Linked DNA regions of Homo sapiens. The protein of the gene in region 4 interacts with the protein of the main gene of each other region in a pairwise test. Each region holds a gene or a part of one and is shown on either strand. Other genes may lie near its edges.

The links.
Region 1: the proteins of SLC35B1 (region 4) and PTPN5 interact in binary tests that used the Homo sapiens proteins (3 or more experiments, as listed by UniProt).
Region 2: the proteins of SLC35B1 (region 4) and FZD5 interact in binary tests that used the Homo sapiens proteins (3 or more experiments, as listed by UniProt).
Region 3: the proteins of SLC35B1 (region 4) and VAPA interact in binary tests that used the Homo sapiens proteins (3 or more experiments, as listed by UniProt).

What each region holds. Positions count from the first base shown.
Region 1 is NC_000011.10:18,788,768-18,796,732, reverse strand, and holds the start of PTPN5 (tyrosine-protein phosphatase non-receptor type 5), read left to right. Parts: upstream 1-4,934; 5' UTR 4,935-5,208; intron 5,209-7,965. UniProt on the Homo sapiens protein: May regulate the activity of several effector molecules involved in synaptic plasticity and neuronal cell survival, including MAPKs, Src family kinases and NMDA receptors.
Region 2 is NC_000002.12:207,766,907-207,773,996, forward strand, and holds the start of FZD5 (frizzled-5 precursor), read right to left. Parts: upstream 3,001-7,090; 5' UTR 2,359-3,000; intron 2,089-2,358; 5' UTR 1,834-2,088; coding exon 76-1,833; 3' UTR 1-75. UniProt on the Homo sapiens protein: Receptor for Wnt proteins. Functions in the canonical Wnt/beta-catenin signaling pathway. In vitro activates WNT2, WNT10B, WNT5A, but not WNT2B or WNT4 signaling. In neurons, activation by WNT7A promotes formation of synapses.
Region 3 is NC_000018.10:9,916,996-9,924,056, reverse strand, and holds part of VAPA (vesicle-associated membrane protein-associated protein A), read right to left. Parts: intron 1-7,061. UniProt on the Homo sapiens protein: Endoplasmic reticulum (ER)-anchored protein that mediates the formation of contact sites between the ER and endosomes via interaction with FFAT motif-containing proteins such as STARD3 or WDR44.
Region 4 is NC_000017.11:49,700,443-49,704,964, forward strand, and holds the end of SLC35B1 (solute carrier family 35 member B1), read right to left. Parts: intron 3,785-4,522; coding exon 3,658-3,784; intron 2,853-3,657; coding exon 2,746-2,852; intron 2,570-2,745; coding exon 2,416-2,569; intron 1,069-2,415; coding exon 1,016-1,068; 3' UTR 501-1,015; downstream 1-500.

The DNA.
Region 1 (7,965 bases), on a different chromosome or scaffold from region 4:
GCCTGGGTGACAGGGCGAGACTCTGTCTCAAAAAACAAACAAACAAACAAACAAAAAACAAAATGAGAAAAGAAAGGAGGGAATGGAAAGAAAGTAGTATAAGCTTGCAAAAAAAAAAAGTGACATACTTTGCTACTTCAGATATACTAGTCTGTTTCTTCCCCTCTGAGATACTTATTTCAGCATTCAACAAAAATTTATTGAGTACCTACTATGTACCAGGCATTGTCCTGGACACTTAAGATATATCAATGAGCCTAACGGATGCAGATGCCCTGTGGACCTTGTATTCCAGTGGGAAAAAAACAGATATTTAACAGATATTAAAGGGTGAACATACAAAATAGATAAACTACCTAATCTATAGCTCGTAAATAAATTTATTAATATAGAATATATGTCATAAGAAATATATAAAATATGAGATAGATATTATAACATAGTTTATAAAGAAATTATCCAGTACATTAGAAGGTAAAATGTGTCATTATAAAAGAAAAGGAGAGATTGGGACTCCTGAAGGGAACGGGAGAAGGCAGGCTCTGACGTATTAGGTAGAGAGGTCAGGGGAGGCCTCAATGAGAAAATGACAGTGGAGCAAAAACTTGAAGGATATAAAGGCATTAGTTCTATGTAACAGATTGTTTCTTTTTGGCATCCCAAATGATCAGAACCAAATTTGAGGTTCAAGCACAGTACTCTAGAGGCCCCTGTGGTCTGTACGTTTGTAATCTTTTGTCCTCGAGAGGCAGGATAGGACAGTGGTTAAGGGTATCGGTTCCACTGTCAACCTGGATTCAAATACTGCCTCTACCACTTACCAGCTACGTGACTTAGGGCATCATATTTCATGTCTCCCAGCCTGAGAGAAATGCCTCCCTATGCTTCAAAATGAAGATAATAATAGTACTTACCTCACATGGCTCTTTTAAGGATTAAATGAAATAATGTACACAAATTCCTTTGCACACAAGAATAAACTCAATAAAAAAACAGCTGTGATTATTGAGCTTTGGTCATGTCACTCAACGTTTATTTACATTTTCTTTGGTCCTGATTCTTTATCCTCATTGATATTTTAACATTGTTTTATGGATCCTGCCCCTTTGGTAAGCTACTTCAAATCCTTTGTGGATTGGGGTAAGTTATAAGTAAGTAAATAAATACATAAATAAAAATCTGGATAGGGGGACATTTTCACTGAAGCAAAGCATTTCATTACCAAGACAGTGAATTGCAAGTGGGCCAAAAGCAAGAAAGATGGACTCTAATCTCTAACAGTCCACCAAGAACCACCAGTAAAACACTCTCTGGTTTCTCAGACCATCTTTTTCTCCCCATCTCCTCTTTCTTAAATCCCTCTTCTTCCCTCTATCATGAAAGGGTAAATGAGTTACACAAAACGGCTCAAGAAGACTCCTAAGTCGTCACAACCTCACAACTATTTCGTTGCCATGGGCCTCACAGGACTCTTCCTCATCAGAGAAGAGAAAGGAAATCAAAGCAGTCACTTTCCGTGTGTTGGCAGGGTGCTGGTTAAGTGAACAGAGTCAGACATAAGCTAGAATCTCGTTTAGTGAGCTCTGTGGCCTTGGGAAAGCCCCTGGACCTTTCTGTGCCTCCTATTCCTCCTTGGTAATAGCAGTCCCTCCTAAGGTGTTTTGGCAGATCAAACGAGAGAATGCAGGGAAGCAACGTGGATAGCTTATTTTTAAAGCCCTCAGAAAATGCTAGATTTCCTTCCTGAACTGCACCCTGGGGTAACACTCTTCAATAAGAGGGTGTATAGGGTGGAAACAGGGTGAGGAGACTAGTTTAGGTATATCCCTATCTGACAGAAACTCAATACAAGAAACAAAAGAAGAAAGATCTTTGTTGTTGCTGTTGCCTTACTACTTTCTAGAGGTATTGTCATACTTCTTCCTTCCCATAGCCCTTTAAGATGGGCATTATTATCCACATGTGACAGCTGGGGCTGGGCTTTGAACCCAGAGCACACAGCTAGGAATGTTTGCGAGGCACCGCTAGCTTTCCGAAGTTGCCTTTACAAGGGCAGCCATTAGCCTCCACCACAGGACATCAGAGGCAGCACTGACAGGAACCTGTGAGGCCCCAGTGCACCTGGAGTACCATGACTCTGTGACCCCTGAGCTGGGGACATCAAGAATCTGGGCCAGGCTGATGCCACTGAAGCTCTCTAAGCCCTACTTTCTCCCCTTCCTTCCATCAGCCCAAAGGGCTTTCATGTTAAGGCATCCCTGCTTCTGTGACCACGTGCTATGGAACTGGCTAGATCTGAATTTGAAACACACACCTCTTAAGTGACCTTAAGTAACTCACTTATTCCTTCTGCTTCCTCTACTGAAATTGGGGATGTCAAAAGGCCTACCTCCCACAGATGTCATGAAGATTCAATAGAGCAGTGCCTTGAGAAAACACAAAACACTACCTGGCACATACTAAAGTGCCCATGTATAGTAGCTGCTATTGTTCAACTGATGCAGCCTGGAGAAATCAGCCTCATGCCGAACCATGGTGATGATGCTCTCGGGGGGTAGGGAGCAGGTCCTGGCGTACAGGCTGAAATGTCTACTCACACTTCCACACAACCCAAGCAGTATGGCCTTTTTACCCAATATATAATCCTCCCCCACCCCACAGGAAACTCCTTGAGGGCAACACAGGGACCTAATTGGGTCTAGGTCTCTAGGTCTTTTCCTAGGGGAAAAAAAAAAAAAAAAGACCAATTGAGGCCCAGCCTAGGGCCTCCCAATCAGTGCCGTTGATCCACAAACATGTGCTGATGGGCCCTTCTGTGCTGGGAACTGGGGAAAGGGAAGACACCCCGCCCTACTTTCCAGGAGTTCATAGTGCACCTGGGGAAAAAGAGAAGGAACCACTATCACAGCAGACAGAAAGTAATGAGAGCTGAGTGTCCCTGGAAATGTGGGGAGAAGGAGGTGGTATTTAAGCTGGACCTTAAAAATTAGTCAAGACATGGGAGGGATGGCATTCCAGACTGAACAGGGACAACGTGAACAAAGGCCTAGAGACAGGAAAACACAGGGTTTGTTTAAAAAACAGATTAGTGAGGTGAGGCTGAAGGATTGGGATGGGAGGGGATTGAGATGGGAGCTGGCAATGAAGCCAGTGAGCCTCAGGGGCAGGGAACAGAAATAAAAGTCATAGCTGCATGGAGAAAATGAGGAGGGAGGGCCAGCAACTTTAAACAGGATAGTTACAGCAATTATCTTAGAAGCGACACATTGAGCCTGGGCAGGGTGGCTCACGCCTGTAATCCCAGCACTTTGGGAGGCCAAGACGGGCGGATCATGAGGTCAGGAGTTCGAGACCAGCCCGGCCAACATGGCGAAACCCCGTCTCAACTAAAAATACAAAAATTAGCTGGGCATGGTGGCGGGCGCCTGTAGTCCCAGCTACTCGGAAGGCTGAGACAGGAGAATCGCTTGAACCCAGGAGGCAGGGGTTGCAGTGAGCTGAGATGGAGCCACTGCACTCCAGCCTGGACGACAGAGCAAGACTCCGTCTCGGGGGCGGGGGGGTGGGGGGAGTGACACTTTGAAGAGGTAAAGGAGTAGCCGTGTGACTATCAGAGGGAAGAGTTTCCAGGCAGACAGACCAGCAGTGCAAAGGTCCTGAGGCCACAGGGCTGCCACGCCGATGATGCATTAAAAAGGCCAATGTGACTGGAGCGTGGGAGAAGGGGGAGGGTGGTAGAAAGAGAGGTTAAAGAGCTAAAAAGGAGCCAGTTCCTGAAGGGCTTTGCAGGTCATGAGGGGCCTTTAACTTTCCCTTGGATGAAATGGAGTGCTAGTGTAGGATTTCCAGTAAAGGAACGACGTGCTCTGACTTAAATTTTAAAGGATCGCCTTGACTGCTGTGTAGAGAATCAGCTGCAGGGGGCCAAGGGTGGAAGCTGGGAGACCAGTAAAGAGACTATAATGGAAATCCCGGGGGGCGGGGGTGGATGGTGGCTGGAACCAGGGTGGTAGCTACGTGGTGGCTCGCCTCTGATTCCCCGTGTAAAAAATGGAGTTTAGGATCCCTGCCCTGTGTGCAGCCCACAGCCTCAAGCCCCCATGGGGATGGAATGCCGGAAACCTCTGGCCAGCGCACTAGCAGCCTGGAGAATACGGAAGATTGTGGCAGGATTGTGGGGCACATGGGCAGCTCCCTGCTCGTCCGGGCCCCTGGTGCCCACGAGAAAACCAAAACAGGTGCGTGCCCCGCGCCGCACGTCAGGAGGGCAAGACTCAGTGGAGGGAGGGGCTGTCCACTCGCTCTAGCTCCCCAGAGGCTGAACAGGGAGAACTGGGAAAAAGGACGCCTCCTCAGCGTCCTAGAACGAGTCCTCGGCACCTGGTATTGCATGCGCCCTAGTATGGGGCCGCTCCACTTGCGCAGGTGTTGGCAACATGCGGGGAGCGCCACGGCATGCCCCCAATGAGCCGACTCCCTCCCCCAACTCTGCCCCCTTTGTCTCGCTGGCCCCTACTCCTTCTGTCTGCCTGTCTGTCCCGTCCCAGGTTCAGCGCGCACGGCCCTGCCGGGGTCCCTCTGGCAGTTGCCGTAGCCGCGCGGCCCGACCCGGGGCTCCCAAGAGGAGAAAAAATCATGAATGAAATGGATGCGCTGCTCCCACTCCTCCGCCCTCCTTGTCCAAGCAACCTTGGCATGGGGGCGACGACTGCGGAGACTCCGCGCAGAGTTGCTCGGGAGAGGGAGGCACCTGAGATGAGGTCAGGGGTTAAGGGTCTGTGATCCGGCCCCCTTCGTGCCCCGGGAGCAGGCCGCTCTCCCGGTCCCCCGCCCCGCCAGCCCTGCGCAATTCCCGGCGAGCGGCGGAAGCCCGCCCGGGGGCGGGGCGGAGCCGGGGCTGGGGGGTGCCAAACCCACCCGGCGGCTGCGCCAGCGACTCTGCAGCTGAAGCGCATTTGGTGAGGCGGTCGGGCGAGGGAGCGCGCACGGAGCGCGGGACGGAGCGCCAGGCGGACGGACCGAAGGACGGAGGCACCGAAGGACGGACGCCCCCGCACACGCAGACGCACAGAGCTCGGCGCGGCCCCCGTCGCATACACACTGGCACAGACACAAGCAGGGACACACGCAGACACACGCACACTCGCGCGCGCATCCTCCCGCCAGCCTGCCCGCCTGCTCGCCGGCGCCCGGAGCCCGCTCTGGCCGGTAAGTGCGGCGCCTCCGTCTGCGCCTTTGTGTGCGGAGCCGGAAGGTGGAGGGCGCGGGTCCCTCCTTCGGGCGGCCCCGCAACTGACACCTTCTCCAGCCCTCCCGGCCGAGGAGCCGGCGCCCGCCCCCGCCACGCCCCCGTGGGGCTCTGGGCGCCCGCATGCTGGGGGAGGGGTCCCCCATGCAGAGGAGGGGGCTTGTCGCTTGGTAGCCGGGAGGGAGCGGCAGCCACTCCCCACGAAGCCCGTGCGCGGTTCCGGGGAGGAATCGGGATAGTGGTTTGGGGTCTGAGCCTCTGCGGCCGGCGGAGGCTGGTGCGCGGCTCTGGGCTGCATCGCCTCTCCGGAGCCTGAAGCCCCTGAGGGAGATTGGAAATCGCCGCTAGCCTTCTGGCCTCTAAAGCGCGGCTCCCAGCCTTCCCATTGCTTCGCCTCCACCGACCCTTTAGCTTTAGCCTCCCGCGTCCCACCCTCCCCTAGAATACAAGCTTAGCGCGCTCCCCTCCCCCAGCATGCTGCTTGTTTCTGGTTGAGGCCCAGGCTCCTGCAAAACCGGAGATTGCCCGGGTCAGAGCCTTGGGAGGCTTACCTTATCAAGGATCACAGGGCTTAGAAGATCAGGGCCAGACGAATCCTGGGAACTTATTCAACCTTCTCATTTTACAGATGGGGAAACTGAGGCCCAGTAAGGTGGCGGACCAAGGTCACCAGAGAGTTAGTGGTAAAGCTTTCATTAGAATCTAGGGTTCCTGGTTTTCATACTCATGCTCCCCTCCTACACAACTAGATCCCACCCACATTGAAGCCCCAGAACCCCAAAATTCACCTGAGTGTACCACGAAAGTGTGTAATTCCAGCCCTGCCCCACTTGGAGGGGCAGGTGCCATTCATTTTCTACCTTCCCTACCTATGGTACCAAAAAAAGGGGAGAGGGGGCTTTAATTTGCTTCCTTCAACCTCAAAGGAGAGCTCTCATAACACTCAAACACTCCGGGTTTGGGATTCGTTTGGGAGAATGAAGAAGCCCAGGACCTGAGATCAGATTCCCAGGCGTTAGTCCTGATCCACCCAGGACACACTGAGCCTGAGTGTCCTCAGTTGGACCAGGTGATGTGGCATCCCAGGATTCGTCCTCTTCTCCACTGTGTCCTGACTGCATGCCCTCCCAGTCACCCTTCCCTCCCGCTTGAGGGCCAGATCTTCTACTCCAACCAGGCCCCTGTAGTCATCCCTTTGCGGAGGTCCCCACCTCTTTCTCCTTGGGGCTCGTTAAGGGCAGCCTCTTGGTGCTGCTGACAAAGCTGCTGGGGAAGCTTGAGTTACAATCACACCAGGTTCGGGTGGTTTCTCAGCACGCGGCTCCCTCAAGGGCAGCCAGGTGTCCCCAGAGCTGAGCCTGATGCCTGGTGCAGAGAGGGTGCCCCGAGAGATGTGTTGAAGGAGTACAAGCATAGACGGATGGTGAAGGGATGGAGTCAGTCACCTTGGAGGAGACTGGATGGAATAGTTGGCAAGGAGGGCAGTGTTCAGTCTCCAGGGACCTGAGGTTCTGGTCTCAAGAACTTCCTTTTTTTATTTTATTTCCATAGATTTTTGGGGAACAGGTGGTATTTGGTTTCGTGAGTAAGTTCTTTAACGGTGATTTGTGAGAATTTGGTGCACCCATCACCCAGAGTATACACTGAACCCAATGTGTAGTCTTTCATCCCTCATCCACCTCCCACCTTTCCCCCAAGTCCCCAAAGTCCATTGTGTCATTCTTATGCCTTTGCATCCTCATAGCTTAGCTCTCACTTATGAGTGAGAACATACAATGTTTGGTTTTCCATTCCTGAGTTACTTCACTTAGAATCATAGTCTCCAGTTCCATCGAGAACTTCCTTTTTGAGGGGGGTGAGCAGCTCATCATGGAGCTGAGCCAGGGTGGCCAAGTGGCAGAACTTCAGGGGCTGCCACTGACAGTGTAGTCCATGTAGATGGCATTGGCTATGAAGTTTACACAGACTTCATAATGAATGGTGGCCCCTGGGTTTTTGCCATGTAGGGATTTCTGCCTTGAGAGTGAAGGGATCTGGATTCCAGTCCCAGTCTCTTCCTCACTGGCTGTACGGTGTCAGTATATAACCCTTTTGGGTCTCAATTTCTCCATCCAAAAAAATAACATCATTGGATTGATGATGTTATGAACTATTTGGCGGTGGGGTGGGAGCACGTATTTATGTAACTGCTATGGGCTTCTTTTGCTTTATGAAGGAATAATTTCTGACTCAAGAATGATGTATGTAGAGTACTTAGTACAGTCCCTAACACATAGAAAATGCTCAGGAATTGGTAGCTAGTAATTCCACTAGGACTCCAGCTTTGTGGATATACCCTATACTTCTTCCTTTCTTCAGATCATCCAAGGACATGGGATTCTTAAGGCCTCAAAGTCCTCCTCCCTCAAAAAATTCCTTTCCCCCTGACCTATTCCTGGACTTCAGGCTCAGCCAGCATAAAACATCTGTGAAAACTCCCTGGGAGGATCAACACTTTTGTTTATTCAACCTTTTGTACGTTAGCGTAATAGAATTTCATAATTAATTTGTATGTAGTGTCAAAAGCTCTTCCTATACTCTGTCACTTACTCCTCATAAGACATCCGTGACAATAGTGTTATCATCCTCATTTTGCAGATAGGGAAATTAAGGCTTGGATTTTCACTTATCTAAGGGTGCATACCTCAAAAGTCTCAGATCCAGAGAGCTAGGCCTCC
Region 2 (7,090 bases), on a different chromosome or scaffold from region 4:
TGACCTTGGCAAAACTACCAAACAAAACGCCCCCCTCCCCTCAGCTCTCCGGCCGAGTCCCTCGGCGGCAGCCTCCTACACGTGCGACAGGGACACCTGCTTGTGGTAGGTGGCGGCGGGGCCCGGCGGCCCGGTCCTGCCTGTGAGCGCGGCGCTCGCCTCGGGGTAGTCCCCTGCGGCCATGGCGCCCCCGCTCTTGTGGCCGCGCCGCGGGCGGCAGCAGCAGCGGCTGGTGAAACGCCGCCACGACTCCACCGTCTTGCCCGACCAGATCCAGACGCCCGACGTGATGCCCACCACCAGGCACATGAAGTACTTGAGCATGAGCACCCAGTACTCGGGCTTGGCGCGCGGCTGGCCGGTGTCGTGGCCCGGGCAGGCGCAGGTGAGCGCCGCCTCCCAGCTCTCGCGGTAGTGCTGCTCGTACAGGTAGCAGGCCACCACAATGCTGGCGGGGACCGTGTAGAGCAGCGTGAAGATGCCGATGCGGATCATGAGCTTCTCCAGCTTGTCCGTCTTGGTGCCGCCCTGCTTGATGACGCTGCGGATGCGGAAGAGCGACACGAAGCCCGCCAGCAGGAAGAGCGTGCCCACCAGCAGGTAGAGCACCAGCGGGCCCAGCACGAAGCCGCGCAGCGAGTTCAGGTTCTGGTTGCCCACGTAGCAGATGCCGGCCACTGGGTCCCCGTCCACGGAGCTCAGCGCCAGTGCCGTGATGGACTTGACGCTGGGGATGAGCCACGCAGCCAGGTGGAAGTACTGCGCGTAGCCCGCGATGGCCTCGTTGCCCCACTTCATGCCGGCGGCCAGGAACCAGGTGAGCGACAGGATGACCCACCAGATGGAGCTGGCCATGCCGAAGAAGTAGACCAGGAGGAAGACGATGGTGCACAGTGCAGGGCCCGTGGTCTCGTAGTGGATGTGGTTGTGCTCGCGGCTGCAGGCCACGCTGGCATGGCCCACGACCAGACGCACCAGGAAGCCCAGCGACACGCACAGGTAGCAGGCTGACAGGAAGATGATGGGGCGCTCAGGATAGCGGAAGCGTTCCATGTCGATGAGGAAGGTGGCCACTGTGGTGGACGTGGAGATGAAGCACAGCACCGACCACAGGCCTATCCAGAAGGTGGCGAACGTGCGCTCGTCGGCACTGAAGGACGGCTGGTAGCAGGGTACCGCGCAGTTGGGCACCTGGCCCGTCCGCACCTTGTTGTAGAGCGGGTGTGACTCCTTCAGAATGGGCACGAAGGGCTCGCGACACTTGCACACGAACGGGCCCCCAGCGGGGCATTCGCCCCCCGAGGCCGGCGCCCCTGGCGGGCCTGGAAGGGTGGGCTTGGCTGGGAAAGGCCTGGGGGGCGCCGTGGTGGCCTCGCTGCGGTTGTAATCCATGCAGAGGACCTCGGCGTCGCGGCCCAGCACCGGGAGGCGGTCGCAGCTCATGCGCTCGGGCCAGGCGAAGCCGTACTGGCGCATCAGCGGCGAGCAGCCGGCCTTGGCGCGCTCGCACACCGAGCGGCAGGGCGGCAGCGGCTTGTGGTAGTCGGGCAGACAGATGGGCGTGTACATAGAGCATAGGAAGAAGCGCAGGTCCGGCGAGCATTGGATCTCCACCAGCGGCCAGAACTGGTGCACCTCCAGGCCCGCCTCGTCCTGCGTGTCGTGGTTGAACTGGTTGGGCATGTGCGTCAGGTTGTAGCCGATGCCGCGGCACATGGGCACCGTGATTTCCTGGCACACCGGGGCCTTGGACGCGGCGGCCGCCCGGCCCACCAGCTGCGCTAGGAGCAGCAGCAACAGCGAGGGCGGCGCGGATGGGTCAGGCCGAGCCATCGCCCCCTCCCTCCCCTCGCCTCCAGCAGCCCGCGAGGGACGCACACAGGCAGAGGAATCCGGGCCGGGGCTTCTCCCTCCGGCGTCTCGTGTGTGGCGCCGGGGCTGGCAACCTGTTGGTTGCTTTTTCCTTTAAAGAAAACCGTCCAAAGATAAACTGCTTCGGGAAGGCGCTGCCTCCGCTGGCAGCGCTCCGCTCCTCGCCGGATAGGGCTGGGGAGAGACGGTTAGGGCTCGGATTCCAGGGAAAGGACTCTTTAAAAAAGAAGGGGGAGAAGAAAGATTGCAACCACTCCCTGTTGGAGAGGCGTCAACAGTTCGGTCCCCGCGAGCTGTCTCCAAATCTCTTAAGTTAACCCCTTTCCTTTCCTCCCCGCTCCGCCTCCTGTAACCAAACTACCGACTCCCCCACCCTCTCTTTCCAAGCTGGGCCCTTCAGGCAGTGCCCGGAGACCAGAACCCTCAGCTTCCCGGAAAAGGGCACAGGAAACGGGAGAAGAACAGGGAGAAAGGGAAGGTTCTCACCTCCACGGATCCCGCCGAGAAGAGCAGACAGTCCCCAGCCAGCCTGGGTCCTCCGTCCCTGGGTCACTCCGCTGAGAAGCGCGACTCAGAGCCGGGCTGGCGCCCGGAAAGTTTAGCGACAGGCTGGGTACCCGTGGCAGCGGCACATGGCAGCAGGTGGGGGCGACTCAGAGTGGGGGGCGCCCCCAGAACAGGGGCGGCGCAGGCCGGTCACTCGCCCTCTCCTCCTCGGGAGCCCCCCGCATGATCCAGACGGAGCCGGGCAGGGGCAGGCCGTGCGTTCTCCCCGGGGCCGGGAGCCGGACGGAGGGCGAGCGCGCCTGGCAGCACCTGGGCGGGAGGAAGGCGGGAGGCGGGGGCCGTGGGACCCCGCCGCCTCACAGCACCGCGAGCAGCCGGCGCTGGCCAGGCCGGGACTGCATGGTGAGCGCCGGCCGCCGCGTCCCGCCCGCCGCTCGCCTCCTCCCCTGCAGGGGGCTCCGCGCTCCAGTGGACTCCTGGGGGCGGTGGCGACGCTCTCGGGACGTGCCCTGCTCGGCTCCTCCCCCGCGCTCTCGCACCCTTTCGCCCACCTCTGGCGAGCACGGAACCGCGCGCGGCGGCGACCACAGCGGACTCACGGCCGCAGGCTGGCTGCCCTCTCCCGCCCCGCCCGGGTCACCTGCTTCTAATGCCCGCCGGGAAGCCCCGCCCCGGCTCCGCCCCCTCAGGCCCGGGCGCGGTTGGTGGGCCGCCTCGCCAAGCTCTCCGCGCGTCCCCGCCCACTGCCCCGCGGGCTCGGCCTTTCCCCCGGCGCCCTCTGGCCCCGCCAGGAGCGGGCAGCCAAGGAGCGCTGACCAATCGCGGGCCTGGAGGAGATGGGGGCGGGGCGAATGCTAATCATGCCGCTCTGGGCACCCGGGCGGGAAGCCCTTGCCAGAAGTCCCTCCGGAGTTCTCTGCCCGCGCCCTGGGTGCAGGACTCGCTCCTGTAACTTCCTGGCTTATGCACCTTTGCTCCCAGGGCCCCTGCCCTTTCTGCCTGCAGCTAAGCGTCCTTACAGAGTTCAGTGCTTCTTTGAAAGAACTGCTCAAGGAATCACTCTTAGGCGTGGCTGTCTCCCTTCCGAGCTGTCTTGGAACTGTGTGAAAGAAGAGAGGATACTTACTGAGCCCTTTACTGTGTGCCCAACAAAGTGTTAATCGGTTACATCCTTTTTTTTTTTTTTTTTTTTTGAGACGAGTTGTTCTGTCTCCCAGGCTGGAGTGCAGTGGCGCGATCTCGGCTCACTGCAACCTCTGTCTCCCGGGTTCAAGCGATTATCCTGCCTCAGCCTCCTGCGTAGCTGGGATTACTGGCGCCCGCCACCACGCCCAGCTAATTTTTGTATTTTTGGTAGAGACGGGCTTTCACCATGTAAGGCTGTTCTCGAACTCCTGACACCGTGATCTGCCCGCCTCGGCCTCCCAAAATGCTGGGATTACAGGTGTGAGCCACCGCGCCCGGCCCGTTTACATCTTAAGACAAGATCTCACTCCTTACAACAATTCTGAGGCAGGTACTTCCTACAGGTGAAGAAACCGAGACTGAGACTTGGCCAAGGCAACCGAGCTAATCATAGTTCCCCCAAGAAAGGGCGACCTCGGCAAGCAAGTTCACCTCCGTATTCCGATCACCTGGCACATAGTAGCCGCCCAAATGGCAACCCTGGGATTCGAACCCAGGTAGTTGGTCAGCGGCACTCACCATCGTAGCCGCCCCTCCCCCCATACTATCGCAGCCTCCCTGGCTTCGACCTTTACTTTTGCATCTCTTAACAAAATCTTGTTGTGACAAGAAAATGGATTTCTTTCTGCCTTTAGAAGACCCAGAAAGATGTGAGTCCTTTATTGGTCGAGGTTTATAATCCCAGGCAGTTCCGAAGTCGCCCGCAGAGAGAAGCGATACCGACCCAGGGTTCTGTGCTGGGCAGGGCGCCGGCCTCCCCGTGCCCTTCCGTCCCCGGCTGCCTGCTGCTAAGCCGCGCACTTGCGCGCCGCGGGGGGTCGGAGGGCGCACCGATGGCGGGGACACGGCGGCGCTCTTCAGTTGCGCAATTATGCTACAAGTTTTAAATGTCCTAAAAATGCCTCTTTTCTATGTGTTGTAATTAGATTGGAAGACTGAGGTATTTAGCATACTTGAAATACATTCACACGCCTAGGAAGAGGGTTTAAATTTTTTCCTTCTCCCCAAACTTTTCCTTCCACTGGGCAAAGGGCGAAAATAGGCAAGAGGGCCTGGGGACACTTGAAGGGATAGGGACTGGACTAACTGGACTAGATCCAGATCAACCGCGGGTTACTGTCCATCTCCTGTGCTGGATCCCATTGGCACAGGTTGGAAGAATAAATTGCGGAAGTGCCACTCCCCTCCTGCGTATCAACAACGCTTTGTGGGCAATAATGAAGAACACGTGTGTTAATCCCAGCCTCCAAGTTAAAAAGGAACAAATATCAATCACTTCGCGGATATCAAAACTATTAATAAACGTTTAAAAGGCCGGGCGCCATAGCTCACGCCTGTAATCCTAACACTTTGGGAGGCTGAGGTGGGAGGATGGCTTGAACCCAGGAGTTTGCAGACCAGCCTGAGCAACATAGCAAGACCCCCAACTCTAAAATACATAATTAAATAAATGAATAAATATACCTTACATCTTTCTTTCTCTGGAATTCTACAGGTGTTCATATTTTATCTCTTGTGTTTTGGAATTACTTGCCACTCTGGGTCAGGAAGCATCCCAGGGTTGAAAATAGTGGGAGTTGAAAAGCTGTGGGCATAGCAGTGAGCAAGAAAGGGAAGCCCTCAGTGGAAAGTATGTGCAGACTATGAACATGCCAAGGGAGGCCCATCTCATTCTGTGCTCTTTATGCAACGTGTGTATTACTGGGGATGGACAAGTGTTGGCTAATAATAAAAATTATTTGAAGTTGGAGAATGTTAATCACTCACACTGGAATTTAGCCAGAATATTTGTGTTATTTCACACGGTTCTGTCAGAGGCATTTGAACCAGAGCGACTCCATCTTGGATAGGGACTGGGTAAAATAAGGCTGAGACCTACTGGGCTGCATTCCCAGGAGGTGAAGACATTCTAAGTCAACAGGGTGAGATAGGAGGTCAGCACAAGATACAGGCCATAAAGACCTTGCTGATAAAACAGGGCGCAGTAAAGAAGCCGGCAAAAACCCAGCAAAACCAAGATGGCCAGGAGAGTGACCTCTGGTCGTCCTCACTGCTTATTGTAACTTAATTATAATACATTAGCATGCTAAAAGACACTCCCACCAATGCCAAAGCAGTTTACATTTTACAGATGCCATGGCAACCGTCAGGAAGTTACCCTGTATGGTCTAAGAGGGGGAGGAACCCTCAGTTCCGGGAATTGCCCGCCCCTTTCCCGGAAACTCATGAATAATCCACCCTTTGTTTAGCATATGATCAAGAAATAACCATAAAAATGGGCAACCGGCGGCCCATGCCGCTGCTCTGTCTATGGAGTAGCCATTCTTTATTCCTTTCCTTCTTTTTTTTTTTTTTTTTTTTTTTTTTTGACAGTCTTGCTCTGACGCCCAGGCTGGAGTGCAGTGGGGGTGCAAGCTCGTCTCACTGCAACCTCTGCCTCCTAGGTTCAAGCAATTCTTGTGCCTCAGCCTCCCAGGAAGCTGGGATTACAGGCCTACGCCACAACACCCTGCTATTTTTTGCATTTTTAGTAGAGTCGGGGTTTCGCCATGTTCACCAGGCTGGTCTGGAACTCCTGGCCTCAAGTGATCCGCCCGCCTCGGTCGGACTCTCAAGGTGCTGGATTACAAGCATGAACCACCTCGCTCGGCCCTTTCTTACCAAACTTGCTTTCACTTTACTCTATGGATTCGCCCGGAATTCTTTCTTGCATGAGATCCAAAAACCCTCTCTTGGGGTCTGAATCAGGACCCTTTTCCAGTAAAGGTTCTGAAGAAAACAATGTTATCTACTGGTTTGTAAACCTTTTCTTCATCAACAGCAAAATCTTAATTTTACTTGGAGATCTCTAATAATAATAGTGATAGCAGAGAACTTTATGGAAAGAAACTTATTTCAGCTGGGCAAGGTGGCTCATGCCAGTAATTTCAACGCTTTGGGAAGCTGAGGCAGGAAGATCACTAGGGCCCAGGAGTTCAAGACGAGCCTTGGCAATATAGTGAGACCTCATCTCTAAAAAAAAAAAAAAAAAAAAAAAAAAGGAGAGAGCAAGACATTTTATATCGTATATGTTTTTGTATTGTATTGTGTTGCTTTTTGTCTATATTTTGAAGGCACTTTAAAATATGCTGGCTGTTTAACATGTATTAGGCAGGGTGCTAGACGTCGTTTAATCCTCAGATGAAGAAACTGGTGCTATAATGACTTTGATGACTTGCTTGAAGTTATTTATTTAGTCTATGGAGTCAAAAACTTTCACACACCGTGATGATGACAGTTCAGTAACAACATACTGTAAATGAAAATTGCTAAGAGAGTAGATTTTAAGTGTTCTCACCACACAAAAATAATGAAAAATATGTAGAGGTAATGCATATGTTAATTAGCTCAATTTACCCATTCTAGAATGTATACATATGTCAGAACATCATGTGGTACATCATAAATATATACAATTGTTATTTGTCAATTAAAAAATAAAATATCTCACAATTTTCACCTGAGTCATACTTTATTACCCAACAAA
Region 3 (7,061 bases), on a different chromosome or scaffold from region 4:
ATGTTAACAGAGGTTATTTTGTGAGATTGAGTAATTTTTATTGGCTTTATAATATCTCCCATCCAAGTACTAACCAGACCCTGCTAGCTTCCGAGATCAGACGAGATGGGGCGCGTTCAGGGTGGTATGGCCATAGACAGCTTTATAATATCTATACTTTTTCCATTTTCTAATTTAGCACTGATTTTATATAACAAGGGACTTTTAAACATGTACCCATAGTAGCTTAATTTGCTTATAAATCCTCTTACTTGTAAAATCCTGGAAGAAAAAACTGAAAAAATTCAGAACCACAGATTTTTTGGGGATCTGTTGTTAGTGAGGTTTTTCTCAGTGGGAACAGTACTCAGAAAACAAGACCAAGAGATTCTGGCCCTACAGGCTTTAAAAAGTAAAATTTTTTCACAGGAAAAACTAAACAGGAAACACTGTATGATTTAAAGGCACCCTATGTCTTTAAAGTATGACAGTCACTCCATGTCATATTATTCAAGAATTAAAATTATATACATATTCATATACACTTCACACATATACACACATACATGAAACATACAGCTACAAAAGAGCTGTCAAAACATAGGCCCATGAGAAATTTGTCAAGTTATACTATAAACATACGTTTAAAAGTCCTCTCATAGCAACAATTCTTTTTTAATTAACATCCCTACTTTTTAACGGTAATTCAATCTAATCATTTCCTTAAAATGCTAAAAGTTTAAAAGTCCTCTCATAGCAACAATTCTTTTTTAATTAACATCCCTACTTTTTAACGGTAATTCAATCTAATCATTTCCTTAAAAAGCTAAAAGATACGTAACTAAACTTCTCACTCCTTTAAATCTGAATTTTCAGAACAGTATCAAACATTAGTGATAACTAGTTATAAAGAACATCCAAACACCAGAGAAAAGCAGCTAAGCATGCTATGGTATATTAATGATGCATAAGTCAGCAAAAATGATACGGAGGTTTCTTTTATAAGCATTGAAGACACTAGTTTAGACTTTTTATAAAGTGAAATATGTGTTACAGAATAACAATTACAAAGTGAAATATGTATAACAGATTACAGAATTTATTTTTTATAAAGTGAAATGTTAAAGAATAATGTGTTACAAATATGGCTTCAGAAAATATCAAATTCAATCTCATTTAAGCAAAGAATATTTTATTATTAAAAAAACCCATACTGAAGAGTTCATCATAAAGATGTAAGCAATTCAATGGCACAGGAAATGAAGTATAACTGGCATCACAGGAAGAGGCTGTATTCAAGAGAAACTAATTCCTGGGATCAAAAGACCTCTCTGCCTACGTTTCTCTGCCTTTTTTCTCTCAATTAGTTGCTTCTGCTTGCCACTGGTCCAAATTAGCCACTGTTTTGTCTCCCAGTCCATATGACCTTGAAGGTCTGAAACCTATAACCATCTATTTATAGTTGTGTTTCAAGGTGAGCCATCAAAATTTTGACTGGTCAGTCACCAGCATATATATTGGCTGGCCTTGAATCTAGATTATAAACAGCCTCTTCCTGTGAGACCAGGTATACCTGATTTCCTATGCCATTGAGATTGCTCATTAATAAACTCTTAAGTGTGATTTTGTTCTTTGTAATAGACTAAATATTAGAGGATATCAAAGAATTACTGTTAATGTTATTACGTGTTAACAGTATCATGATTATGCAAAGAAAATGTCCTTTTTTGGTTATAAATGCAAACTCAAGTATCTAGGGATGAAATGTTATGCTATCATTCAGGATTTGTTTTAAAAATACTGAGGCAGGCCAGGTATGGTAGCTCATGCCTGTAATTCCAGCACTTTGGGAGGCTGAGGCAGGAGGATCGCTTGAGGCCAGGAGTTCAAGATCTGGCTGGGCAAAATAGCAAGACTGTCTCTACAAAAAATAAAACATATAATAATTAGCTGGGCACAGTGGCATGCACCTGTAGTCCTAGTTACTCAGAAGGATCGCTTGGGCCCTGGAGTTCAAGGCTGCAGTGAGCTATAACAGCACCACTGCACTTCAGTCTGGTGTCAGAGTGAGACCGCTGCAAAAAAATACAAACATGGAGGCAAACAAAAATATATAAATAAACACGTATGATTATAGTAAAATGTCAATTATTAAATTTATATTTAAATTTAATTTACTAAATTAACGCATACTGAGGTTCATATTATAAGGTGCTCATGTTTGAAAGTTTTCAAACGTTTAAAACTTACTAATTTAAAACTAATTTGAGTCACATTTCAGTTATAAAATGAATTAAACCAGTAAACAAGCATTTGCAAGTTAACAGTCCTCTCGCACATTTAATTTTTTTCCAAAACTAACTTTATGATCAAAAGAGAGCAAGATCCATCCTGTATCAACTTCCACCTCTGAAAGGCAAATAAGATTTCACTAAATGGTCAGTAAAGGTAAGATAAAAAGAAACTATGTTGAGATGATGCATATGTCAATTTGCTTCACTATAGTAACCATTTTACTATCTATATGTATCCCATAACATCATGTTATATGTATACCTCAAATATACACAATGAAATCTTTTTAAAGGATTAAAAGTATAGTTTTCCCTATTCTTTATATGCATTTTTCTGCTTCACAGAAAAATAGCATTTTCTTTTTGTACTCAATTGTCATATATTCACACAAACTTTTAAAGACAGAACACCCAAGAAATCACCTAGTCCTAACCTCTTACTTTACAAATGAAAAAAACACAAACATCAAACAACCTACCTTTAGGGTTAGTCAGCTCTTTACAAAATAGCCTACCACCCCTTTTCTGGAAGTACAAAATTTTGAAAGCACTATTACCTGCAAAAGCAGGTGAAAACTCCAACTGAGTCAAGATCCAAGACCAAAAAATAAAAATTACTGGAGAAATCATCTGAGTCTTATTAATTCAATCAACACTTACTGGGCAATCATTTTATGATGCCAGAACTTGTTACTACAAACATTAACAGGTATATACTCAGAGTTCATAGTATAGTTTGGGAGGGGAGAATATGTAAGCCTAACTACTATCTAATGTGAAAGTACTGTTATTACAGGTAAGCACAAGCTTCAACAGTGGCATGAAGGCTCTGACCAACTTGGACTGGTAGAGTATCAACGACTTCTCAAGAGGAAGTGATTCTTGAAATAAGAGGCTGCCTGACAGACGTGAGGGAGGACAATATTCTAAGCAGAGCCTGTGCAAAGCATTGCAGTGGCCTGGAGTGTTTGGGAAAATGGTTTCATATAGCCAAAGTTATGGACAGAAGAAAAAGAATAGACACTGAGGCTGGAGAGTTAGGCAGTGGATTTTGGATTTTTCAAGTACATAGTAAGAAAACATTTAGAGTTCTTCAATCAAGGGACTAACAGTAACAGCCTCCTTTTTCCAAAGCGTAGTTCCAGCAGCAGTGTGGAGGACAGGGTAAAGAGCTGACAATAAAGGAGGCTGGGCACAGTGGCTCACGCCTGTCATCCCAACACTTTGGGAGGCAGAGGCAGGTGGATCACTTGAGGTCAGGGAGACCAGCCTGGCCCACAGGGCAAAACCCCGTCTCTACTAAAAATACAAAAATTAGCCAGGCATGGTGGTGCACGCCTGTAATCCCAGCTACTTGGGAGGCTGAGGCAGGAGCATCGCTTGAACTCGGGAGGCAGAGGTTGCAGTGAGCCGAGATAGCGCCACTGCACACCACCATGGGTGACAAAGCGAGACTCCATCTCAAGAAAAAAATGAAAGAAAGAAAGAAAAGAAAAGGAGATGTCTGCTGACTAGTAAATATAAAAGGACCTGAAGTAAGGAAATTATCCAAAGCCCAGACCTTTTCTTAAGTAACACACCCATTTAACCAAATCCACCTTCATGTTAATATCCTGAAAGACCTAAACATATCTACCATACGTCCTCCTCCTCCATCTCTCTCACACACCCCCAAATAAGATGCATTTCGTCCTCATCCAGACATCCACCGTTTCTCAAATAGCACCACCATTTCCCCAGTTATATAAGCAGAAATCTCAGACATTCATACCCTTTTCTCTCAGTGCACATAGAGACCACCAAGTCTCACAGATTCAACCTAACTTTTCATCACCTCCAATACCATGACCTCAGTCCAAGGGGTCACCACTTGCCAGTACTGCTGCAGCCGCCTAATTCATCTCTTTCTCCCCTCTAGTATAATTTTACATTGCTACCAGAATTATTTTTAAATGCAAATGTGATGTTATTCGATTCCCTCCATCTTTACTGCTCCTCCCCTCACTTAAAAACCCTAGTGGCTCAGGATAAAAACAAAACTCCTAACTTGACCTACTAAACCAGCACTACATTCATCTTGACTATTTTCACCACTGCCACGCCGACCTCTTTCAGTATGGTAAATGTTTCACAGTCCCTCCTGCTACCGGATATTTGAACATGCATTTTCCTTTCTTCTTCACCAGGATAACTTTTACTCATTGTTGGAATCTTAGTTCAACTGTGACAGCCTGATCGAAGACCCTTATTTTACATTCTCGTAGCACTATATAGCTCTTCAGGGGTACACTTTATTCTTCTGATTATTTTATTAGTATCTATCTCTCTTGTTAGAACTGCCCCATGAAAACATGGCTTGTGTTTCACTCACAACTGTAGTTCCAATATTTATTCATCATACCTGACATGTAGCAGATACTCAAATCTAATCAAATTAGATCCATAATTGAATGAATTTTAAAAATAAATGAATTTGGAAGTAGAAACACATTGAAGTGGACAAAGGGATTATGTCAAAAATAGAAACACAGATTTTAATTATTAGATATGCATATTGTTTCTGGTGTGAGTAATCATGATGCCACTAAAAAATAAAAATAAAGCCAAGTGCAATGGCTCAGGCCTGTAATCCCAGCACTTTAGGAGGCCAAGGCAGGAGGATCACGCAAGGTCAGGAGTTCGAGATCAGCCTGGGCAACACAGCGGCACCCCCATATGTACGTAAAAAATTAGCTGGGCATGGTAGCATGCACCTATAGTCCTAGCTATTCAGGAGGATCACTTGAGCCCAGGAGGTCACGGCTGCAGTGAGCCAAGAACGTGCATGCCACTGCACTCCAGGTTGAGCAACTGAGCAAGACCCCATCTCAAAAATAAAAATAAAAAATATGGGAAGAAGAGTAGGCATGGGTAGTAAAAATTTTGAGATATTTTGAGTTTAGAATATCATATCTGTGCAATATTCAAATCTAAATAGTGAATAAGTTGTTTGAGTATGTGCTCTTGACTGACGGTAAAATGTGAATTAAAACAGACTTGGGGGTGTAGCAATACCTGCAGAGAGCAAGGAAGATAAAGAGAAAACCTCAAAACAATGAAATGAACAAAGAAAGTTCACAGAGTGAGATAAATGAAACCAAATCAGAATCTCAGAAACATGAGCATTTGAGGAAAATGCCACAAATAAGACAATAAATGGAGCAAATAAGAAAATTAGAAGACAATGCTGTTATAGAAGCCAGAAGAATTGAGGGTTTTTTTTAGAGAAACTGTCGGTACTGTCAAGAGCCAGGGGGAGGTCAAGTAAGATAAAAACTGGAAATGATTAAGTTAGCAATAAGTAGTGAGAGGATAAAAGTACCGTGGACTAAGGAGAGAATAAAAGGTGAGTAACTGGAAAAACAGTGAATATGGACTATTTTTCCAAAAAGTCTGAATGCAAAGGAAATGAAGGACAGGGAGAGACACATACTAGAAAGAGTTATGGTCAAAGAAGTACATGTCTGCTCATTTGTTTTTAAAATCAAAGACTCTGGTGTATTTATATGTTAAAACAATGCAGCCAGTGATTGAAAACCAGCAGGAAAACATCTCATGGAACATGGTCTGAGTCATAAGGAATTTTACCTTAGCCAGCAAAAATAGAGGAACAAAGAACCTTGGGTATGAGCAGGGTTTTTCTTTCTCAGGGAAGAAAGTATGGATGTGTACAGACTAACAGGTGTTACAAGAGGAAGGCACATCATGGAAGAGATGGTATGTCTTACTGAAAAAAAAAAATCTGACTTTTATTCTGTGAGCAATTGAGAGTTACCTAAAAACTAAGGAATGGAGTAATATATGATTAAAGATTACATTCATGTCTTTAGAGCCCCAGGCGTTTTGTATAGCCACTGGGAAACATGAAGAGCCGACTGGAAACACCTAAAAATGTGCTAAATATCCATCCAGAGGAGTATTCTCTAATTTCCCCCCCGCCCCGTGCTGCTTCTATGCAGATGCACTAGCTGATGTTAACACCATACGTCCCTCGATCCCTCAGAGAGCTTAATTTTCTTTGTTGATTTATTGTTATCGGCCACTCTCAACATAAGGATTTTGGTTTATTTTCGTCTCTCTCTGATCATTAAGAATATATTTGAAATTTATTTTAGCATTTTATAAACTTTCTTCTTCAAACTTTTCTACAAAACTGCTAATAGGGGTCAGGTGCGGTGGCTCACGCCTGTAATCCCAGCACTTTGGGAGGCCAAGGCAGGCGGATCACCTGAGGTCAGAAGTTCGAGGCCAGCCTGGCAAAATCCCGTCTCTACAAAAAATTCAAAATTAGCTGGGCATGGTAGTGCATGCCTGTAGTTCCAGCTACTCTGGAGACTGAGGCAGGAGAATTGCTTGAACCCGGGAGGCAGAGACTGCAATGAGCCGAGATCGAGCCACTGCAACAGAGCAAGACTCCGTCTCAAAAAATAAAAAAATTTAAAAAAACTGCTAATAGGTAGAAAAATAAAATGTGTAATACATTATAAATGGAATTTTATCATGTAAAAAATTTTAAAGACAAAAAAAATCTTTCACATAAAATACCAAGTTTCAAATCTGAAATCTAGGTAAAATTACTTCCAAGGTTTAAACAGAATTTGAAGTAAAGCAGCGTCTACTTCTTTTTCTTTACTAACACAAGTGATCTACTTCAGAATTCATTACATCGTAAATGCACTTTTATATGTTAACGACTGTATAAAACAAACTTTTTTTTAAATACTGAGGTATACAGAAAAATGTACTGAA
Region 4 (4,522 bases):
CAGCATCCCTTTCAACAGGCAGAAGCTGGCATGGTGACACCTTGGCACAGCAAAGGATGGCAGAGGACTGCAATGCTTCAGCAGCTGGAGGAGGCAGGGGAATAGGAGGGATTAACCCAGCCTCCCTGGAGGGGACCAGGTAGACTGAGAACAGACAGACAGATGGAGGGGGAATATCAGGAAAAGTACATCACAGACCTTCCAAAGCTGATCATGATGTATGCACTGGGTCTCCACTCTGGTCTTGATAGAGCTGTGGCTGAAGGGGAGGCAGTGGGGAAATGGCAAAACAGTAGATTCTGAAACTCTGGGTTCGTTTTACCCCAGCCTCAATGAATATTTCTTTTCTGTTTTTGATTTTTAGTGGAGACAAGGTCTAACTATGTTGTCTAGGCTGGTCTCAAACTCCTGAACTCAAGTGATCCTGCTGCCTTAGCCTCCCAGAGTGCTGGGATTACAGGTGTGAGCCACTGCACCAGGCCTAAGAAAAAGACAGAACACAACTTTGTTTTTTTAATGAAATATTTGCCCACAGGAGCTTTAGGAGAGGAAGTGACTTTTACATTCTCTGGCTCTAATGGACAGCCACCCGTCCTCTAATGGGACCAGCTCTAACGGGACAAGCCTCACCCATCGGAACAGAAGCCATTAGCACAATTCTGCGATCTCACAGAGTTCCTCCCTATAATCCTCAGGTTCTTGGAGGAATCGCCCACTCAACCATGCTAACCACACCCGTGAGAGGAGCAGCCTGGGTAATGAACATCCAGCTCTGCCTCTTCCCTCCCTCTTTTATTTACCATAGACTGCTCCAGGGCATGAAGAACAAAAACCACCACTCTGTCTTGTTAAAATCCAAGTGCATTTTTTAGAATATGTGATTTTGCTTGATTTTATTTTATTAAAAAAGACTGGAACTCAGTCCCATATTCCTATTAAGTCCATTTTCCCAAGAGATGTCACTGTTTGAGATAATAACTTAAATATTCTTGATGTGGAGGTAGTCTCTCTCTTCCTAGTGGGATGTCTTCTTAGCTCCTTTCCCAAACTTGGCATCAAGACCAAGACCTATGAAAAGGAAGAAAATGGGCTTAGCCTTATGGGGGGAAATGAAACTTACCAATGATTGTGGTGGGGTGGGGTAGTCGGCCTTGTATCTCCAAAATGGGGGCTTTAAATAAAATACATGTCAGAACACTGGTTTTATGTAACTTCCTCAGAGACAAGAGAATGGCACCAGGATACTAGTTATTACAGATATCTGTATCTATATAAATATATCTATATAGAGATACAGATAGATATAGATACATATATAATACAGCAAGACTAAAAGAAATTTAAGAGTCAAAACTTCTAGGCTATGGCTGAATGTGGTGACTCACACCTGCAATCCCAGCATTTTGGGAGACTGAGGCAGGAGGATCATTTGAGCCCAGGAGTTTAAGGCCAGCCTAGGCAACACAGCAAGACCCCATCGCTACAAAAAAAAAAAAAAAAATTGGTCAGGTATTGTGGTACATGCCTATAATCGCAACTACTCGGGAGGCTGTGGTGGGTGGATCACTTGAGTCCAGGAGATCAAGGTTGCAGTGGACTATGATCATGCCACTACACTCCAGCCTGAGCAACAGAGGGAGACCCTAGGAAGGCTGGATTAGAAATAAAGCTTCCTTTTCTCCTTTTATTTTCTTTGGATACAGATTTTCACTCTGTCACCCAGGTGGGAGTGCAGTGGTGTGATCACAGCTCACCTCAGCCTCCACCTCCTGGGCTCAAACGATCCTCCCACCTCAGCCCCGAGTAGCTGGGACCACAGGCGTCTGCCACCATGCTCAGCTAATTTTTGTATTTTTTTGCAGAGACAAGGGTCTCATCATGTTGCCCAGGCTGGTCTCGAACTCCTAAACTCAAGCGATACTCCTGCCTCAGCCTCCCAAAGTGTTAGAATTACAGGCGTGAGCCACCACACTCAGCCTCTTTTCTCTTTTAAAAAAGTTTTCTCTGGGCTGAGCGCGGTGGCTCATGCCTGTAATCCCAGCACTCTGGGAGGCTGAGGCGGGGGGAATCACCTGAGGTTGGGAGTTCGAGACCAGCCTGACCAACACGGAGAAACCCCATCTCTACTAAAAATACAAAATCATCCGGGCATGGTGGTGCATGCCTGTAATCCTAGCTACTCCGGATGCTGAGGCAGGAGAATTGCTTGAACCCAGGAGGAGGAGGAGGCTCACCCGATTGGTGAGCTGAGATCGTACCACTGCACTCACTCCAGCCTGGGCAACAAGAGCGAAACTCCGTCTCAAAAAAAAGAGAAAAGTTTTCTCTAAAATATTTAAACAAATTTCATAAATATACAAGTAAATTTTAGGAGAAAAAATTCAGCTGTCACTGTGTCTCTGTGTGGCCACTTACCCAGGAACACAAGCACAGTGCCCACCCACTGCATGGGGCTGATGGGATTGGCGAAGAGGATCACAGAGGCCAAAATTGTGAAGAACTTTCGAGTTGTAGTGATGATGGAGCAGGTCAGGGGACCAAAATACACAACCGTCATAAAGATGAAGCTCTAGAGAAAGATAAAGGTGAGGTCCGGTGGGCTTCTGGGTATCTGCCATTGGTCTAAAGTCTATAAACAGACCTCAGGGCTAATCTTGCCACCCTCTTCTTCCAGCCAGGCCAGTCTTTCTTAGGGAACCAGCTGCCAGAGTAGGGAAGCCAAGCCATCCCCTTTCAAGCACTCACCTGACCCAGGGCACTGGTCAGCCCAAAGAGCAGGATGTTATAGATGATGGCAGGGTACCTTTCAGCAAAGCTCAAGAACTCCCAGAGCTCCCCAGTGAACAGGATTCCTGAGAAGACATGTCAACAAATGTACGGCGCATTTTGTGCACACAAAATGTGCGCACACACACACACACACACACACACACAGACACTCCTGCACATGGCCTGTTAAAGAACTGCAAGGGAGGTGGGACGCGGGAAAGTGTATGGTGTGGGTTTGCATCGTCTCATCATTGATTCTTCTCATATTTTTCTCTGATTAGAGAAACTAAAGAGAATTTTGTGAGAAAGGCTTGAAAGTTAATGAGTTACTTCTACCAAAGTGATTACAAGCAGAAATCCTCAGATGCTGTAGAGATGCTGACCCACACATCCTTAGCTCAAGGAAGCCCCTCGCATTAGTCACCTTCAGCCATCAGCAGCCTCCACCATTAACCCCAGTGTGCTGTATAAAAAATACTTTCTACATGTGCCCAAATTTGAAAAGTTAGGAAGCACTGATTTCAAAGCAAATCATTCACATTTGAACTGTCTTCAGTGTACAGCTAACTCTGTTTCCTGTGAGCACTACGTGTGTCTCATTTCCCTCATGAAAGGGAAAGTTCCCAGGTACCTCCCTGTGTTTTACTACTGAGTGTCTTCCCATGACAACTGACACACGACTCTCCTTCATTGTGCCAGTAACAAGTAGCAAACAAATCCTGCTGGTGCAGGTTTTTCCAGGAAGGTTTCTCAAGGGCTTGAACAAAAGGGCATCTTGGAACTAATTCAGGCCCTTGGTCTGGGCAACTAACAGCTAGAGGGATCAAAAGGATGAGGGCAGCCTGCCCTCTGGTGATACATGGGAAGAACAGCAGAACTGGCTCTCACCCATTCCCAGCAGCAATGTCGACCAAAGGTTGATGTTCAGCATCATGTGGTTGGAGCCTGTTTGGTAATGAGCCCGCATGTGGTCCTGGGAAACACCAGTCAGTCCATCCAGGGTCAGCGATAATAGCTGGGAAAGAAAGGGTGCAGCCTGCAGTGAAGTGGCCAACAGGGCCCTTTCCAAACCCAGGACACAGGATTCTCACTCTCAGGCTCCTTGGAAAGCCACTGCCTTTAAAGTCCTCAGAACAAAACGTTGCCATTTGGTCACAGGTGGAAGGTGGGGAGAGACCATGCTCACTACCCCCCACCCCCGCCCCCCGGCCCACGCACTGGACTGACAGGCTAACTGAGCTACGTAGTGATTTTGTAATCAGAGTAGAGCAGGAAGCTCACTTCCCAACATACTGGGAGGGGAAAGGTAGTCCCAGCAGGTTAGCTTCCTAGCTTGGAGTATAGTGCTCCAGAGACCGGATCCTGTGCTTAGGCTGCCTGGATTGGAATCCTGACTCTACCACTTCAAATAGCCAAGTGACCATGGGCAAGCGAGTTAACTTCTCTGTGCCTAGTTTCTTCATCTGTAAAATGGAGATAATACTACATATGAGATTATTGTTGTAAAAATTAGTCAATTAACATGTAAAACACTCGGAACAGTGCCTAATGCATACATACCAGCTACTATCATATTATTTTAAACTCTGGCTTCCAGGTTTCTTGGAAAGCCACAGTGAGAGACATTATTCCTTCCCTCTTTGCTCTCAGGTCTCTGTGACCTCACACCAGGATTCAGCCACAACCCTCAGAGTTATCTCTTCTCCAGAATGAGAGCTGAGTTGTAGTTAAATATTTCAGGTTTCCCACTATG